2 separate regions of the Homo sapiens genome follow, and region 1 is linked to region 2. Evidence: fine-mapped expression QTL. A gene starts in region 2. The other region holds a variant in brackets. All regions are shown on one strand. Distances are between the middles of the regions.

What was found. PIP is the estimated chance that this variant, and not a neighbour inherited with it, causes the effect. A credible set is the group of variants that fine-mapping cannot tell apart.
Region 1: its variant is the best candidate, but not a certain one, in a credible set for the expression of ZCCHC9 in lung (GTEx, PIP 0.82).

The regions. Positions count from the first base shown.
Region 1 is chr5:81,247,062-81,249,975 of GRCh38, forward strand. All of the region lies in intron 1 of CKMT2 (creatine kinase, mitochondrial 2), which reads left to right. All of the region lies in intron 1 of CKMT2-AS1 (CKMT2 antisense RNA 1), which reads right to left. Among named protein-coding and RNA genes, the nearest start is that of CKMT2, 15 kb to the left of the region's middle. The variant C/T (reference allele first, on the strand shown) is at 1,821.
Region 2 is chr5:81,300,536-81,303,449 of GRCh38, forward strand. It overlaps ZCCHC9 (zinc finger CCHC-type containing 9), which reads left to right and starts at 1,052. Exons shown (of 6, transcript NM_001131035.2): 1 at 1,052-1,163. CKMT2-AS1 (CKMT2 antisense RNA 1) reads right to left here and starts at 1,034. Exons shown (of 2, transcript NR_034123.1): 1 at 752-1,034. RefSeq lists enhancers at 781-1,570, 1,134-1,233, 1,384-1,563, 1,571-2,360.

The DNA.
Region 1 (2,914 bases), 53 kb before region 2:
GTGGAGCCCACAGTGAGGGTGTCTGAATGCTTGAGATTTTATCCCAGGGAGAAACATCCTGGCTGCTCTGGTTCCTCATCTCCTCTCCCTAGTGGTCTCTGAACAGAACAGTTCAGTACGTTATGATAATGCTCAGAACATGGAGGGAACTGAAAACGTTAAAAAAGCTTTGCAATGAGCCTGAGATTTCTTTTTGTTCCAAACTTTTGTCCTAATGGTTTCACAAGATATACTGACTTATAAAACCATGTTTGGAAACTAGGCAAAACCAATACTATCTGCTTTGATAGACACAGATTACCCCTTACAAACAAACATCTTCCCAGCTTTACTTATGCCACATGTTATCATGTGTGCAAATAACAAATCAAGCCTCTTCTGAGTAGGGGTTACAGCTGCAGAGAATGCTTATGTAACATTTGGGGCCTGCCAGGTAACAGGGAAATGTGTAAGACAAAGCAATGTTCTGACTGCGCAGCGTTTTAAAGACTAACTTTTAACATGCAAGAGAGATTTAGTTTAGTCATGAGGAAAAGTGATTTCATTGCAAGCCTTGATTCTGGGTCTTTGGAGAGCATGGAACAGCCATTGCCAGAGCACCAGCCTGTTCAGTGAGACCTTTGTTTCAATTTCACAAACAAGGTTACTAATTAAGGCCTTAATAGTGAAATTCAATGCCTCTTTGTGTTCTGGCGAGACAAAAACAGAGTCAAGGAAGCAGGAATTCTTTGCTTCACCAAAACCTGGAGTCTGTGTCAATTCTCTTCAAGGAATCAAAGCAAGGATACTGAGGAATTTCAGTTCCAAGATTGCTTTGCTAGCCACAATCAAAGCTTCCCCAGGATTATCTGCATGAGTCATCCTTTGTTGCTCAGACACAAGGGCAGTATTGGAACTTGGAATAAAATAATAATTATAAATTAATTAAATTAGTTCCTTCCAGGAACTAAAATATGGATATGACACTTCAAACATTAATATTCTGAGCCAGATACCCACTCACACATCACCCTTACAGGGAGGAAGACCTCCAGTGGTCACAGGACTATACATGGAGACCATTCACTCCCCTTCCTCTTGGCTCTGCTTCCTAAGATTTATCATCTCAGACACTGACTTGGGCACATATCAGTGCATAGGCAATTTAAGGAATGAAAAATAGGGACCAGGACATTTGGGTCATCCCTGGTCAATCCCAGAAAGGAACATACTTCCTGTTAGCTTAGGAAGACCATGTCTGGCTTATGTTTAGGCCCATACTGCCTGGAAAGAATCTGGGCAAAGCTTCTTTCACTTTAGTGAGTTCTACAGTAAACCTCTAGAGTGACAGCATTGCCTCTCTCTAGTTAGAAAGTGGGTTTGAGGGTGTGATGGCAAATAAGATGGCCCAAAGGATGTATGCTAGCGTTGCCTGCTGCAAGCAAGGACCAGGAAGCACTGGTGCAGCTCACTGAAGAGCCGTTATCTATTCTTGGAGGGATACTGACATGATGACCTGAAATCTAGCAGGGGAGCAAAGAAGTTTCCATGATGAGAATGAATGTTGGTCTTTACAAGTCCCCAGGACAACTTCAAGAAATGACCAATTTATATCTTGTCTGCTCTTAGTAACTTACTGGCTTTAGAATTGAAAGAATTGTTTGCAGATATTAGCACGGAAGAAGAACTAATAATCTGATTTCCTGGGCTATCCTGTAACCTATATCCTGTAACCCCTACTCAGAAGAGGCTTGATTTGTTACTTGCACACATAAACATTCTCAAATGTTTTCAAGGTCTTTGATGCTTTTAGTTGGGACATTCAGGTTTAGTAGAGACTT[C/T]GAAATGACGGTTCTATTAGGAGTTGATGTTTATTCTTCACTGGATGGCCCAGGTTTTCAGCTACAGCCTTACACATCAGCAAGTTCTTTGAAGCAATCAATTCAGCTAAGTTTGGAGCATCTTGCAGCTGAGTCTTGGGAGCCTTCCAAATATGAGGGAAATCCATGCTCTTTTTTTTTTTTTTTTGAGACAGTTTTGTTCTGTCACCCAGGTTGGATTGCAGTGGTATAATCTTGGCTCACTACAACCTCCACCTCCTGGGTTTAAGTGATTCTCATGCCTTAGCCTCCTGAGTAGCTGAGACTACACTACAGGTGCATGCCACCACACCCAGCTAATTAATTTTTTGTAATTTTAGTAGAGACAGGGTTTTGCTGTCTCTACTAAAAGACAGCTAACAATGTTGGCCAGGCTGGTCTCAAACTCCTGGCCTCAAGTGATCCGCCCACCTTTGCCTCCCAGTGCTGGGATTACAGGCATGAGCCACCATCCCGGGCCCATACACTCTTTATTTGGGCATTATGGAGATCAAATAGAGTACTGAGAACTACGTACTCTTTTGTTCTCTACTCAAAGAGCCACATTACACAGCTCCCTGCTAGGTGATACTGTGGGGCTAATTGGCCCTTCTAAATCTCTAGGCAGTAGCAGACCCAACAGGGTTTCTGTCTGTGCATGTTTATCCTCTTTTTCATCGTTTGTTGGTAGTTCAGTACTTGTATTACAAATAAATATATAAATACTTATTTAGATTTATACATGTTTTCTCCATTTCAGGCTCTCTCCTTATGCTGTCATTTCCTTTCTTTCTGAAGCATATAGCTTAGTAATTCCTTTGTTATTGATCTGTTTTTTATCAATGTTTTTCACTCTCATTTTTGAAAAAATGGTTAGACTAGTTCCCCAGTTCTAGGGTGACAGTTATTGCTTCTAAAAATATTATCTACCTGGGCTCATTATCAAAAAATCAGCTCGTTTGTCATTTCTTTGTAGGTAAACTGTCTTTTCTTTCTGACTGCTCTTCACGTCTTTGTCACTGTTATTCTGCAGTTTTATTATTTGTCTAGGTGTCAATTTCTTTGTTTGCTTAGAT
Region 2 (2,914 bases):
TTTCTTGAGAATAAAATACTTAAAGCCTTGAAGGGTGAGTAGAAAGTAACTGGAAGAAGAAAAGGAGTACCATACAAAGAGACTAGCAAATGTAAAGGCCTGGAGATGGCAAGGTACACACGGCATTTGAGAAATTGAAAAAATGATCCTATGCACGGAGCTCAAAGGAGAGACTGAGCAAGGTGAGGCTAGGGAAGTAGGCAGGGACTTCATAAGGAGTTCGAATTTCATCCTAAAACAATGGGAAGCGAAGGGAGAGTTTAAAGCAGTACAGCAGTACTGCTTTAAATGTAATGATTTACATTTTCAAAAGTTCCGTTCCTACGACACGGAAAATGGATTTCAGGGAGTTGGGGCAGAATGAATCCCCAGACCAGTTGTAGAACTACAGGTACAATATGGGACAAGGGAGGAGGTGCCAACAGAGATAAAAAGAAGTGGACAAATATTCAAAAGGTTAAATGGATTGAGCAAACTGTTGAGAGTAGTGGTCCTGGTAAATTGCATTTTTTCACTAGGCACAGCTGGTGGTGGTATCCATTTGCAAGAAGCTACAGAAAATGAGCCGTTTGGAAATCCAGGGTTTTCCTCTTAAAAAGAGAACTTGTTTGGCTACAAAGTGTTAACATTTTAATTGAATGCTCAACGAGCACTGAAGGGGGGACATGAGGCACTGCCTCTCACCCAAGAGAGCCCCCAAATGTCCTTTTCAGACTTTTATCACAGTGACCCACTCCCACCGCGCCTTTACCTTGCCTCTGCCTGGAATGTCCTTAACTCCCTCTTGCCGGCAATTTCACCAGATTTTTGATTTCTTATCCAGTCTCACGGGAAGCCTTTCCGGCATCTCCCACCCTACCGATCTTCCCGTCTATCTCGCCTGCTACACTGTGAGTTCAGACAGCACGGATTGAACTCTTCATCTTTTCGTGTCGGCGTCCTGCACAGGGCCATCCCATCACTAAGCGCGCCACAAACTCAGCCCAGTATTGACGCCCACGAGTCGCTTGTAAAGACCGTCTGTGACGCCGGAAGTGACGCGCTCTCGGGCACTATGTGCTTCCGGTCTCCAATACCGCAGGAGGGCGGTCTTCCCCGGCTCGCCAACTCGGCTGCTCTGGGGGATTCGTGCGCGGTAAGAAGCTGCGCGGTAGCGCGGTGAGGTGAGGTTCTCAGCCACCAAAGCTGCAGGGTCTCGTCGTTCGTTCCCTCTGGCCTGGCGGAACTTGCGTGGGAAGCTGGGAGGACAGAAGGCTTAGCCGCTGGGTCCCTGAGCTGGCTGGAGCGCGGGCTGTCTAGGGGCGGCGACCTCAGCTGTTGGGCTCCGGCTGCTGGGGGCTGTGCGTCCAGCCGCCCTGGAATCCGCCTGTGGGTGGGCCGCTTGGCTCTCCCACTTCACCCTCTTGATAACCCAGAGCCTCCCCCTTCCCACGTACGTAGGGGAAGGATAATCTACTTCCTTTTGAACAGCTTCGGTCCCCACTATGACAGTCGCATAAACTTCAGCGAAGAGTGCGCTGGTAAAGTGGCATGGAGTTTCTCACACCAATTCATTGGGTCCACCCTTCAGCTTCTGTGGAAGGGGTCTTTCTGTTACTAGGAGCTGAGACTTGGGGGGTTGCCAGGGATGCTGGTCTTAAAAGGTGATAATTTAGGCCGGGCGCGGTGGCTCACGCCTGTAATCCCAGCACTTTGGGAGGTCGAGGCGGGCAGATCTCCTGAGCTCAGGAGTTCGAGACCACCCTGGGCAACATGGTGAAACCCCTTCTCTACTAAAATACAAAAAATTAGCTGGGCGTGGTGGCACGCGCCTGTAATCCCAGCTATTCGGGAGGCTGAGGCCCGAGAATCGCTTGAGCCCTGGCGGCAGAGGTTGCAGTGAGCCAAGATCGCCCACTGCACTCCAGGTTGGGCTACAGAGTGAGACTCCGTCTCAACAACGACCACAACAACAACAAAAAAGGTGGTGGCTTAATACAGCCATGCTCCCCTTAAGAACTGGTATAGTTATGAGAAATGGTTGGGCCGTTTCGTGGTTGTGTGAACATCATAGTGTACTTGCACAAACCTACACAGCTGGGCCGTATGGGATAGCCTGTTACTCCTAGTCTACAGACCTGTACAGTATAACTACTAAATACTGTAGGCAGTTGTAAAAGGATGGTGTGTATCTAAACACAGAAAAGATACTGTAAAAATATAGTGTAAAAGAAAACATGGTACAGCTGAATAGGGCACTTACGCATGGAGCTTGCAGGGCTGTCGGTAGCTATTAAGTGAGTCAGTGAGTGGTATGTGAGTGTGAAGGCCTACGATATTATTTAGGGTATTACTGTACACTACTGTAGACTTTATAAATGCGGTATGCTTAGTCTAAGTTTATTAAAAATAAGGTAATAACCTTAGCTTACTGTGCTTTTTTAACTTTATAAACTTTTAAATTAATTTTAACTCCTTGACCTTTTTTTTTTTTTTTTGAGACGGAGTTTATTCTCTCTGTCTCTCATTTTTGAGACAGAGTTTTGCTCTTGTCACCCAGGCTGGAGTGCAGTGGCGCAATCTCAGCTCACTGCAACGTCCACCTCTTGAGTTCAAGCGATTCTCCTGCCTCAGCTTCCCAGGTGGTGCGCGCCTGTAGCTGGGACTACAAGAGTGCGCCACCACGCCCAGCTAATTTTTGTATTTTTAGTAGAGATGGGGTTTGACCATGTTGGCCAGGATGGTCTCGATATCCTGACCTTGTGATCCACCTGGCCTTGGCCTCCCAAAGTGCTGGGATTACAGGCGTGAGCCACCATACCCGGCCCACTCTTTTGTAATAACACTTAGCTTAAAATGCTAATGTGTTGTATAGCTATATAAAAATATTTTCTTTATTCCCTTACATTATTCTATAGCTTTTTCCTGTAAAAAT